Linked DNA regions of Homo sapiens. The protein of the gene in region 3 purifies or fractionates together with the protein of the main gene of each other region. This does not show direct contact. Each region holds a gene or a part of one and is shown on either strand. Other genes may lie near its edges.

Evidence for each region. Proteins that work in one complex are often made in the same cells at the same time.
Region 1: the proteins of ECT2 (region 3) and NUMA1 purify together in Homo sapiens (affinity purification with mass spectrometry, with the first as the bait; 2 studies listed by BioGRID). This does not show direct contact.
Region 2: the proteins of ECT2 (region 3) and EIF5B purify together in Homo sapiens (affinity purification with western blotting; 2 studies listed by BioGRID, with this or other methods). This does not show direct contact.
Region 4: the proteins of ECT2 (region 3) and USP9X purify together in Homo sapiens (affinity purification with mass spectrometry, with the first as the bait; 2 studies listed by BioGRID). This does not show direct contact.

Annotation. Positions count from the first base shown.
Region 1 is NC_000011.10:72,018,043-72,021,542, forward strand, and holds part of NUMA1 (nuclear mitotic apparatus protein 1), read right to left. Parts: intron 3,250-3,500; coding exon 3,162-3,249; intron 2,878-3,161; exon of another isoform or gene 2,284-2,877; intron 1,576-2,283; coding exon 1,452-1,575; intron 968-1,451; exon of another isoform or gene 939-967; coding exon 781-938; intron 472-780; coding exon 354-471; intron 259-353; coding exon 141-258; exon of another isoform or gene 1-140. UniProt on the Homo sapiens protein: Microtubule (MT)-binding protein that plays a role in the formation and maintenance of the spindle poles and the alignement and the segregation of chromosomes during mitotic cell division.
Region 2 is NC_000002.12:99,340,389-99,343,888, reverse strand, and holds part of EIF5B (eukaryotic translation initiation factor 5B), read right to left. Parts: intron 1-3,500. UniProt on the Homo sapiens protein: Plays a role in translation initiation.
Region 3 is NC_000003.12:172,816,726-172,819,349, reverse strand, and holds part of ECT2 (protein ECT2), read right to left. Parts: coding exon 2,513-2,624; intron 803-2,512; coding exon of another isoform or gene 581-802; exon of another isoform or gene 536-580; intron 1-535. UniProt on the Homo sapiens protein: Guanine nucleotide exchange factor (GEF) that catalyzes the exchange of GDP for GTP. Promotes guanine nucleotide exchange on the Rho family members of small GTPases, like RHOA, RHOC, RAC1 and CDC42.
Region 4 is NC_000023.11:41,228,445-41,231,944, reverse strand, and holds part of USP9X (ubiquitin carboxyl-terminal hydrolase 9X), read right to left. Parts: intron 2,693-3,500; coding exon 2,536-2,692; intron 2,379-2,535; coding exon 2,166-2,378; coding exon of another isoform or gene 2,118-2,165; intron 1,445-2,117; coding exon 1,349-1,444; intron 1-1,348.

The DNA.
Region 1 (3,500 bases), on a different chromosome or scaffold from region 3:
AGGGGCAAAATATGCAGGTCTCTGGAGAGACTGAAGCATAAGACAGGTGCTGGGACATTCTTCTCAACCCTCTCTTGGGGAGCCTTCCAGACCACCTCAGCCCTGAGGGGCCTCCATGCACACACCACCTTAACACCCACCTTAAAGGAAAGGTCTCCATTCTCCTCCGAAAGCTGGTTGATTTTGCGATCCATCTGGCTCTTCTCTGTCTTCAGGTCCTGGCACTGCTTCAGGGTTTCATGCAGCCGCATGGTAAGGCTGCGAGGGAGGGAAGCAGTGAGAAGAGAGTATGGGTTCCTGGCTGGGTGAGGGGAGGGGCTGGGGCCTGGGAAGGAATGCAGGGAGAGCTGTACCTCTCATTCTTGTCACGCAGCTCCTCAAGCTCCTTGGGCTCCAGTGGGCTGGCCGCCTGCTTCTCATTCAGCAGGGCTAGGCGGTCAATGCGCTGCTGCATCATGGCTATCTGTGCATCTGCCCAGAGTGGAGGGAGGAGGAGAGGAGAATCAGAACTATGTGCATGAGCGGAACTATGTGCACAGAACTATGTGCACAAGGGGAAGGGAGGAGACGGCATAGGGAAGAGGAGGAATATGGTATCCAATCTAAGGGAAAGAGAAGATGGGGACAAAGACAGAACCTAGCTTCCAGGAGGTCAGCCTGACCACAGGCCCAGGGCTGAGCTCTCAGCTCCAGGGGCCAGCAGAGGGGACAACATGGGAGGCCAGGGGACATCCTTCCGGCAAGTCTATTCACACATCTGCCAGTGTGCCAGCCACCTACCCTTCTCGGTGAGGAGCTTGCGGTTCTCAGCTAGCTCCAGCTCCAGCTCATCCCTATTACTTCTCTCATCAGCAAGCTGCTTCTTCAGCCGTCTCATCTGGAACTGTGGGGTCTGCAGGATATCACCCATGGGAGAAGCTGGAGAACCTGAGAGAAAGCTGAGGAGGGAGAAGGCCCATATGCATTGGTAAGCGCCTAAGATCTGAAGCAATCAGCAACAGGCAGCAGTAAGGGAGCGGGGTCTATGGAAGTGCGCACTAGCAGCTGGGAGGCCTGTGCACCTGGGTTGTTTGCAGTGCTACCTCAAGCCTCATGACATGATCTTGGGAAAACTTTTCTTCTCACTGCCTTAATTTCTTTGTCAGAAAAAAAAAAAGTGATATATTCTCCTTGGCTCTGCAGAGATGTGCTAAGAGAAGAGACTTCATTGTAGTCTCCGAGGAAGAAGGGTATTCCATAAACAGGGAACAGCTTTTGAGGGAGGCCTTCTGCACATGACAAATCCCAACCACTTCCCCCAGTTAATACTGGGTGAGGTGAGGAGATCCCAGATCTACCGGATACTCTAAGCACTCCCAGAGGCTGGTTAACATCTTAACTCTAGAAGTTAGGAATGTGAGGAATGGATGGATGCTGAGGCCCTATCCCAGGAGGAGAGGCCCAGAACATACTTGTTCCCACTGGAAGAGGAGGCAACCTTCTGTAGCTCTAGGAAGCGAATCTCCCTCTTGGCCTGGTGGCTAGGTGGGGAGAGCTCTTCAGGGAATGTGCTAGAACAGGTAGAAGGCACAGGAGCTGGGGGTAAGAAATAGACAAAATAAATCAACAAAGGTTAGTAAGAAGGTGTAAAGATTTGCACCTTTATGCAATTTGAGAACTCGCCTTAGTGGGAGTATATCCATGGATACTTATATGTAAACTACCAAGGAAGGCACTGGGCAGAACCTGAAACCTGGTGCCTGGGTTATCCAGAGTTCCGTGTCTCTAACCAAAATGAAGTGCAGGGCTTCCATTTCTACAGAGCATCATTACTCAGAGCACAGTGGAGTGACGGTGTCCTCTGGCTCAGAAACTGCACCAAGTGCTCAAGCTTTTTCCTCGAGTCCACACTGCAGAGACGGCTTGGGGAGCCCTGAGCAGGATCTCCTTGCAGCCCCCAACAACCTTTCCTATCAGAGCCATTGGCCACCATTTGGAATTCATCCCCCCTGAAGCCTTGCACCTCCAAAATGCCCTCCTCCTCAAAACCCTTCTCTTTCCGTGGTTTCCGTGACCCCTTTTGTAGGACTCTCCTACCTCTAATCACCCATTCTTAAGTCTCCTCATCTGCTCCTCCCTCCTCTACCCACCCTCTAAGCTCCCAGAGATCTGATGGGGCCTCTTGGCTCTGCCCATAGTGCCCACGGCTTCAGTGGCCATCCAATGCTGACTTGCAAACCTATCTTCTGGTCCAGAGCCTGCTCCTGAATTCTGGACTCACATTTCTAACATCTCCACCTGAAGGTCTCATGAGGAACCTGAATACAAGGAACATCAAACTCAACGGCTAGAACTCGCCTAGACCTCCTTCTTACATTCCTATCATCCACCAGCTGACCTCTTCATCAGAAGACCAGCAGAACGATCACTCTTTCTACTGTAGTACCAGCCGAGGCCATTGATATATTCCGTACTTAGATTCCTTATCATTATTTCCTGGTTTATGTATCTGCCTTTCCACCTAGAACATGCACTACATGACGGGAAAAACATTTTTTAAAAGACTGTGGGCCGGGCGCAGTGGCTCATGCCTGTATTCCTAACACTTTGGGAGGCCGAGGCAGGTGGATCACCTGATGTCAGGAGTTCGAGACCAGCCTAATCAACATGGTGAAACCCCGTCTCTACAAAAAATACAAAAATTAGCCAGGTGTGGTGGCATGCGCCTGTAATCCCAGCTACTCGGGAGGCTAAGCAGGAGAATTGCTTGAACACGGGAAGTGGAGATTGCAGTGAGCTGAGATCGCACCACTACACTCCAGCCTGGGCGACAGAGAGAGACTCTGTCTCAAAAAAAAATAAAAATAAAAATAAAAAGACTGTATTCTCAGCTTCTAAGCCTAGAGTAATGATTGTTTAAAAAATAAAAAACAAAAGTAGGTATGATCACTTGTAAATATCCTACATAACTGCTGCCAGGCAGCAAGGAGGAGCTCCATAGGAACTGAGATGATACAACATGGCCCAGAAATCGACCTACTCCATTACACACACTTTTCCTGAGCATCAACTCTGCCTTGTGTTGGGGACAGAAACAAACCCCCACCATACTTGACAACTCAGGATCCTAGTATTCCCCATTTCAGAGATGAGGGGATTCTCAGGAGTGTGTACCTACTTACCTTTCTGTAGGAAGTTCTCTAGGTCCTCATTAAGGTTTAGCCCGTCCTCATGGTCCAGCACAAATTTAAGAATGACAGCCAACTCAGCCTGGGCCACAGGGAGAAAAAGAGCATCACTTAGGTGTTAGGCCTCTGAAGGGATGGCTGCCAGGAGCTCCACCCTGGCAGTGCCAGTCCCCGGCTCCCTCATGCCCTAGGAGCCTGCTGGATCCCATTCTCCCTCTCAGAGCTGAGGTCCTATGACCCAGCCAACAACATTCAACTAGAGATATGTTCACCCCACTTGTCCCCTTCCCTCCCACCTCCCCTCAAGATGTACCGAAGTCAGAGTTCCTGACT
Region 2 (3,500 bases), on a different chromosome or scaffold from region 3:
AATTAATTCAAACTGGAACAAAGACCAAAATGCAAGAGATAAGGCAATAAAAGTTTTGTTTTTTTTTTATTTTTAGAGATGGAGTCTCACTCTGTCACCCAGGCTGACGTGCAGTGGTGCAATCTTGGCTCACTGCAACCTCCGCCTTCCAGGTTCAAGCAATTCTCCTGCCTCAGCCTCCCGAGTAGCTGGGACTACAGGCGCGTGCTACCACACCCGACTAATTTTTGTATTTTTAGTAGTAGGTTTTGCCATGTTGGCCAGGCTGGTCTCGAACTCCTGACCTCAGGTGATCCACCCACCTCGGCCTCCCAAAGTGCTGGGATTACAGGCATGAGCCACTGTGCCCGGCCAGCAATAAAACTCTTAAGAAAACATACAGGTAAATCTTCACGACCCTGGATTTGGCAACAGATTATCTCAGATACAACACCAAAATGCAAGCAACAACAACAAAAATAAACTGGACTTCAACAAAATTTAAAACTTTTGTGAAAAAGAAACTTTAAAAGACAGTGGAAAAAACAAACTACAGAAATCAGAGAAAGTATCTGCAAATCATATATCTGATAAGGATCTAGTATCCAGACTATATCAAGACCTCTTACAACCCAACAATAAAAATACAACCCAGGCTGGGTGCGGTGGCTCACACCTATGATCCCAGCACTTTGGGAAGCCAAGACGGATGGATCACCTGAGGTGAGGATTTCGAGACCAGCCTGGCCAACATGGTGAAACCGCATCTCTACTAAAAATACAAAAATTAGCTGGGCATGGTGGCACTGTAGTCCCAGCCACTTGGGAGGCTGAGGCATGAGAATCGCTTGAATCCAGGAGGCAGAGGTTGCAGTGAGCCAATATCACGCCACTGCACTCCAGCCTGGCCAACAGAGTAAGACCCGGTCTCAAAAAAAAAAGAAAGAAAGAAAGAAAGAAAGAAAAAGACAACCCAGGCCAGGCACAGTGGCTCACACCTGTAATCCCAACACTTTGAGAGGCTGAGATGGGAGGATCACTTGAGGCCAGGAGCTGAAGACCAGCCTAGGTAACAAAGCGAGACCCCATCTCTACAAAAAATTTTTAAAAATTAGCTGAGTACAGTGGTGTATGCCTGCAGTCCTAGCTACTGGGGAGGCTGAGGAGGGAGGACTGCTTGAGTCCATGAGTTCAAGGTTACAGGGAGCGATGATCACACCATTGCACTCTAGCCTGGGTGACAGAGTGAGATTCCATCTCTCAACAGAAAGGAAGGAGAAAAGGAGACAAAAAAGACAAAATTTTACAATTTACCAAAAAAAAAGGAGGGGGAGGAATGATTACATTAACAGCAACAAAAATTCTGTGATACATGGGAAAAAGCCAAATCCTAAAGATTAAAATGAAGAAAATAATATTTTACTGTTATAGAATTAAATTAACCAACTAAATGGAGAGGCAAATCATATTACTTATTTGTTCACAAATATATTTCTAGCATCCAGAAAAATATCTGGCACTCAAGTGCTTAAATCTCAATATATTTCTTGAATGGAATGATTCAACACCATAAAGATGTCAAGTGTCACAAATAATCTATAAACTTAATGGACTCCCAATTGAAATCAATCTCAACTGATATTTACCTTGGCAAGTATTACATTTAAAAAAAAAAAGGAAAAATCTCAAATTGTTAAAATATCAAGAACATTAACATGCCCACAGATGTCTTCAGTTGCCTTTAAGTGATTCTCAAGCATTCTCAGCACCTGTAAGACATACATGAACGATGGTCAAACAGCTTGAGAAATGTCTCACAAATGCCTAAATCTAGTTTAGAAATCCCTAGGCCAGCAGTCCTCAAATTCATTCCCAAGGTCTCTTTAGGGAATCTAAACTATTTTAGGGGGTCAAAACTATTTTCAAAATAATACTAAGAGGATACTAGCCTTTTTCATTCTCATTTTCTCACAACTGTACAGGGGAGTTTTTCAGAAGCTAAATGATGTGTGATGATGCTGCAGATCAAATGCATAAGCAAATGTGAGGATCTATCTTCTATTAAGTCATATAATAGTGAAGATGTTTGCAAAAACGCTTAGCTCTTCTATTTTTGAAAATATGGTTATTTAATAATGTTATGTATCATAGTGTAAGTTTATTTTTATTTTTAAATTAAATATTTGAAGAACTTTTCAGTTTTAGTTTGTAATACCTGTAACTGGTAGATATAACCTACATACACAGAAGCCTTTTGTGTTCCTTAGGAATTTAAGAGTGTAAAGGAGTCTAGGACCAGAATTTGAGAATTGCTATTCTAACCTAACCACTGACACTCAGTTCCTTGGTAAAACAACACTCTGCCCACCTTATAGATCAACTGCAATACTGGAATAAACTTAGAAGCATAAATAAAGCACAACAAATGAGCAAGTAACATTAAAAGTAGCTGAATGAGTTCCCCACAGGGACAGCATGGAAGGCTAGAGAGGTTACTATCAACAAAAATCTATAATCTGTTTTCTTATTAATTTATAGCAAACTAGGACTTCTTCCCCTACCACTTCCTAAAGCGTCAGGATAGGAACAGGCTAGACCAAAAGAATTCTGATTATGCATCTTTTTTTGATGTAATTTATGCAGACAAGAGTTTCATTCAAATATATGCAAGTAAGAAATGAATTCCTTTATTAAACCTAGGCTATGTGTATTATATTTGTTTGATATGTGGATATTGAATCCTAGCCTTTGTCTCAACAAGTTTCCCGAGTCAACTGAAAAAGGTCAGGAAAACTTGCTGAACAAACACCACATCAAAATCTCATTCTTAGAATTACACAAACTGGGGCTGAGCGTGGTGAATCACACCTGTAATTCCAGGCCTTTGGGAGGCCAGGGTGGGAGGATCACTTGAGTTCAGGAGTTTGAAACCAGGCAGCCAACATGGTGAAACCCTGTCCCTACTAAAAACACAAAAATTAGCCAGGTGTTGGGCGCCTGTCATCCCAGCTACTTGAGAGGCTGAGGCAGGAGAATCGCTTGAGCCCAGGAGGCGGAGGTTGCAGTGAGTGGAGATCGCGCCACTGTACTCCACCCGGGGTGACAGAGCAAGACTCCATCTCAAAAAAAAAAAAGAAGATTTTTCACAAACTGGAACAGAATTCTAGAACTTGGTCTTTAAGCAAAATTCTAGAATTCTAAAAATACACAGACAAGAATAAATATCTTGATCACTGACACATGCTGTACAAATAAAATTAGGTAAGTTAAAATCTAATTTTAAATGAATACTGAGTGGCTAAGAAGTTAAAATAAGGATTAATTAAATATAAGAATTAAGGACAGTGAGTATTGTATGTTCTGTCCAAGAACTGAAAAGTGGCTCCATGCCTTCTCTTGATAACTAAATAAGCAGTTGTCATTTCTCACACAGTTCACACCTTGCCAGAAACATGCCTGACATAGCCAAGGAGGGGAGGTGGAATGACAGTAAAATCTTTAAAGTGTGGACCTTCACCCAG
Region 3 (2,624 bases):
AAATCAAAATAAATTATAAGGCTACTGTTTTAACATATATAAATGGCTAACTGTAAGAGCTAGTAAGGTAATTGGCTTAAGTTCTCATCAACAAGGTTGTAAAATGAAGCATTTAAAAAGCTGGGTTGATGAAGTATAACCATTCAAGTATCAACAAAATGATGATATGAATGTATAATATAAAAGTTTACACTTTCCTCACATGGAACTTTTATGATTTGGCATATTAAAAGCATAATTTTCTATAAATGCTATAAATCTAACATTAAGAATCAGATTTGGAATATAAATCCACTACTCATGACAATTACTATTCTTTAAAATGATAATTTTCCTAAATAAGAAAATTTCTAATGGAACTTATTTTTTCTGGACTTAAGAAACTCTATTAAACCTAAATTGTTATTAATTCAAAGCAGTCATAACATTGTGAATTCCAAAGTTCCCACCCACCAAATAAGTGATTCCTTGGAGAAAAAATATGTTCCTTTTTTTTTTCCCGCAAATACAAATTTTAAATAGCTAATAAGCTCACATTAAACTTCATGAGGCTTGTTTCCATTAGTGGTTGGCAAATCTCCTAATTCTTCACAAATGTCAAAGATGACTTGGAAAGAACTTTTTTGAAATTTGAAAAATCAGTATTTCCTTCTAGTATCTCTGAAAAACTAGCTCGGAAAGCAGAATGACGTACAGATTGAAACCAGGAGTACTGAGAGCGCCCACCAGTAGAGTTTAGGCGCTGAACATAAACATGCTTAGTAAATCCAATTACATTGCTTGTGGAAACAGAATGGGTAATCTGTTAGAACAGAAACAAGCAATTGAGAAGATGACATTAATGTCTTGAAGGTATTTTAGCTGCTTCTTACATATGCTGTCTATTAAAAGTGACATAACCATAAATAAATTAATTTTCTAAAATTTTCTATAAAATTCATTTATTTTCATTTGAAAGATGAAAATGTTTACAATAGTTGCTACAGGTGGCTTCGAGAAAGCTATAATCTAATTTTCACAAATTAATGTTTATCTGCATTTGTCAATTTTAATTGGCCAAACTACTTTGCATATATTCATTTTATCAACTAAATGCAGCTTCTCTCCCATTGGTTAAGATTAATGTTGATGAAAAACCTGTATAAATACACTAATAGATTTAGCCATAACTCTTTGATGTGTTAACTGAAGACTTTAAGCAACTTTAAAATATATATTTAATGAGTATTATTTATGTGTCTTACCTGCGGAAATTTTATAAATAAAAAGAAATCACTTATAAAACTCAAGAGCACTCACAATGTGCCAGGTACTGTTCTAAGCACTTTACATATAATAACTCGCTTAATCCTTATAACTACTTAAGACTCACTTTACAGACAACGAAATTGAAACAGATTGTTAATAACTTGCCAAAACACATACAGCTAGTAAATAGCAGAGCAAGGATTTGAACACTAGGGTTCCAGAGTCCATGCTCTTAATCACCACCCAAATTGCCCCTCAGTATATAACATCATCTGCAAAAATGCAGTTGAGAGAATAAGAAACTTGCTACAGGACACACAGCTAAGAAATGACAGTCACTTGCTTTTCTTAACTTCAGTAGGTTAATAATTTTATAAAGAACAGATATTTCACTCAAATACTTAGTAATAGTAGTATTAAATATCTAATAATAATTCTGAAACTGTTGGAAATTTGGATTGTTCAGGAAACACTTTAAATATACATACATATATATACAATATACATGAATTTAGAACTCGTATCATCCTCTGAAATACAGTTTCAGAGATTATATTCTACTCATCACAAAAATAGTAAAAGGAATAAAACTCGGTCTCTGCTATGTCATTGGAACCGATCTGTATAAACAGAATCATAGCTATTTACATTAGTAAAGTGACAGGCCAGATTGAAACGCGTTTCTTTTCTCAGAGATTTTAGAACATATTTCAATCCCAGTAAAATTTCCTATCAAATAAACTACACATTAAGTATGTCTCTAGTTCATTCATAGTAGGGTTTTCTCAGTTGCCTTTACCCAATAAAGAGGTTAGAGGTTTGGATATAAATATTTAAAAAATGACGTATGATAGGATGCCAAGGTTTAAAGTGCACTAGGGGAGAACTCCTCTCCCCTAGCATCATGCTTTCCATGCTGATTCTTCAGTGCTAGTGTACAGAGCTGTGCTGTCCTTCCAGGAGCCACTAGCCACTTGTGGCTATGAAACCCCTGAAACACAGCCAGTCTGAAATGCAGCCAGCTTTGTAAGTATAAGGTGCACCCCACATTTTTAAGACTTAGTACATAAGAAAGAATGAAAATATCTCACTGATAATTTTACATTGATTCGCATTCAAATGATAATATTTTAGCATACTGGGTTAAATAAAATTATTAAAATTTTTTTAAAATGGAAGAAATATTTCCAATTTTTAGAAGTTAACAAATTCCATAACAACTTCATAAATAAGTCATTTACCCCATTAAATCAAAATAACTTACTGCTAATGATGATGTGCTAGAAAGACGACTCATTACATGCTTATCATTGCTGGAAGGACTTCTTCCCTCCACTGAGCCGTGGGATGTCATAAGAGCCCTTCGAAGAGCTCTT
Region 4 (3,500 bases), on a different chromosome or scaffold from region 3:
TGCTGATTAAAAACAGAACAATGTTCAAGATGATAAAGTAACCAGGCATGATTAACATAAGAGCTTTCTCAGGGTCAAAGGAAGTTAACCTTCCTTGTGGATTTGGTTCCTTAACCTTTTAAAATGTCTGAACCCTACAGTGCTCTCATTTTTCTGTACATGCTCCATCAGCCAAGCCAAGATTTTAGGCTTAACTTTTTTTTTTTTTTTTTTGAGATGGGAGTTTCGCTCTTGTTGCCCAGGCTGGAGTGCAATGGTGCTATCTCGACTCACCACCACCTCTGCCTCCTGGGTTCAAGAGATTCTCTTGCCTCAGCCTCCTGAGTAGCTGGGATTACAGGCATGCGCCACCACCATACCCGGCTAATTTTGTATTTTTAGTAGAGACAGGGCTTCTCCATGTTGGTCAGGCTGGTCTCAAACTCCTGACCTCAGGTGATCCACCTGCCTCAGCCTTCCAAAGTGTTGGGATTACAGGCATGAGCTACCGCGCCTGGCCAGGCTTTACTTTCTATAGATGAAAATAAGTACGCTGAATGTGTACTTCCTAACTATTCAGTTTGCTTCTATGTACACAGTGAAATGTAAGAAAGAATGCCTGAAATGTTTCTCCAAGTATGGTTCCTGGACCACCAGCAGCATCACTTGGGAACTTGCTAGAAATGTACATTTTCCAGCCCCTTGAAGACCTATGAAATAAGACACTTTAGGGTAGCATCTAGCTCTCTGCTGGAGCAACCCTTCCAGGGAGACTCACGCCTGTGCAAGTTTGAGTACCACTGCCTCACAAGAGCTGATTTAGTCACATTTTGGTTTCAGAAAGAAAAAGTTATCATTTAGAATGTTTCTTCATCTCATTTCTTTTGCTATTTACTAGTTTATTTACTTTAATCACCTATGGAAATCTACCCAAATCCTTTTTTTTCCAGTGATTTTTACCATCACTGAAACCTGTGGCTAAGTAACCAAGGACTTCTTACTTCATTGCCATATCTTAATAATGTTTTTGGAATCCAGGTGAAGATTTTACCTCACCGGAAATGTCACCACAATCCTTTGCACTAAACAATGATCATTTTATGTTGATATAAATTCTCATACAGTTTTATTAACTACTAGCACAAGAAGGACACCTTCTTGACAAGGAAAACCCTACAGTGGTTAAGTTCAAACATGTTACACCATGACCCCCACTCCAAACCATCCCTCTTCTGGATCATGCTCCCAAAGCTAGTCTAGATAATCCTACTTCTTACTTTGTAGTCACAACAAACAATTGAGCCATCCTCTAAAATTAAGCATAAAACCCAGTTCTAGGGGATAAAAGCATAAACTGACTCCTGTTTACCTGTTGATACTGAGATCCAGGTGAATGGGGGTACAATGGGGCATCTTCAGGTGGAGGCGACTCATGTTCATCTGGAGCATCTTGGTCATCTGGCTCCTAATTTTGAATATTTCAAGATAAAAAATTACGTAGGCAAACTCAAGTTTACTTTTAACTTTTTCTATTTGAAATAAATTTTAAAAATCTACAAAACTGACCCATTAGCAACTTTTCTTTTACTGCAGATAAAGAACTTGGGGAAAAAACAAAAAAAAAAAAAACAAAACAAAAAACCTGATTTGCATTCTCTCAGAACTACTACATTTCAGGCAATTTCACAGAAATTTCTCCAAAAGAAAGCTCCCTTCATTAGCTTAAAATGACATAGAATAAACATTCTTTTCTTTTCTTTTTTTGAGATGGAGTTTCACTCTTGTCACCCAAGCTGGAGCCCACTGGCACGATCTCCGCTCACTGCAATCTGTGCCTCCTGGGTTCAAGTCATTCTCCAGCCTCAGCCTCCCAAGTAGCTGAGATTACAGGCGCCTGCCACCACGCCCGACTAATTTTTCTATTTTTAGTGGAGATGGGATTTCACCTTGTTGGCCAGGCTGGTCTTGAACTCCTGACCTCAGGTGATCCGCCTGCCTCGGCCTCCCAAAGTGTTGGGATTACAGGCGTGAGCCACCATGCCCAGCCGAATAAACATTTTTCAAAACCCAAAACTTCAACATAATCTTTTAATAATATCATTAATACATAAACACTGGCCTATAAAATAAAGAATTACTTTGCTCTCTTCCATTTCTATCTGCTGCACACTGGTGGCTTTTTTTACCTCCTCTGGACAGAGTTCACAAGCTTTTGCAAGTGTCATCCTAGCACTATGTGATCTCTCCAAGAAATAACCATTGGACGTTTCATTGCTTTGCACTGGGGGAGACCAATTGTTGTAAGTGTACTGAGGATTGCCAGTATATGGTCTTCTTTCAAGTTCATCTCCAAGCCATTCCACTGCCCAGGTCCACTTTCTTTTAAGATCTCCATTGCCCTGCAAAAGAAAATAAAACCATATAGATAAGAGGATTTGGAATACTTCAAAGTTAACTTAAAATGACAACCCCAAGTTCTCATGATTCTCTTCTTTTAAAACAGAATCCTTAATTCTGATTAAGATTTCTACAAAATTATAAGAAAAAAATCCTCACCTGCAGGATTTGGTAAGCAACAGGACAGTTACTAAATAGAGCTACCATACATTTTATACACTGGTATGCTCTTTTTTGATAGTGATTCTTAGAGCGCTGGATTGTGTCAAACAGCCCATCTCGGTCATCTGGAATTCCTTTCAGTGCATTATGAATTCTGAAAGAGAACCAGATATAAAATAAAAACATCTAAAATCTAATAGCTAATATATACTGAGTGCCTACTATGTGCCACTCAATAATGTCTTTTAGTCATTTAATCTAACATTAGACAATAGGTACTATTATTAAACCTTTATTTTTTATTTATTTATTTTTTTTGAGACGGCCTGGGCTGGAGTGCAGTGGCGCCATCTCGGCTTACTTCAAGTCCTGCCTCCCAGGTTCACGCCTCTCTCCTGCCTCAGCCCAACTACAGGCACGTGCCACCACGCCCAGCTAATTTTTTGTATTTTTAGTAGAGACGGGGTTTCACCGTGTTAGCCAGGATGGTCTCAATCTCCTGACCTCGTGATCCGCCTGCCTCGGCCTCCCAAAGTGCTGGGATTACAGGCATGAGCCACTGCGCCTGGCCTTATTATTAAAACTTTTAACAGGTGAGAAAATTGGCACAGAGTTACACAGCTTGCCGAGGTCATATAGCTGCGGAGCAGTGTGACTCCAGAGTCTGTGCTCTTACTAACTTATTACCAGTCCAAAATAATTCTGCCATATATGTAATTTAAACACATTACCTGAAGTGAATTCAGGACACTCGAGAGTAATGCAAACTTTAAAAAAGTTATAACTAAGTTTATGACTGCTGTAGTTGAGGGTAATTTGCTACACATCAATACCTTTTATAAAACTGCATCTCTGAAGGCAAGTTAGGATTCAGTGACATAATTTGGAGGTACAGTATTTGAATTCTAATAATGAGAATACATGGCAGGCAAAGCATTTTGACAGGCAATAGTACAATTTGG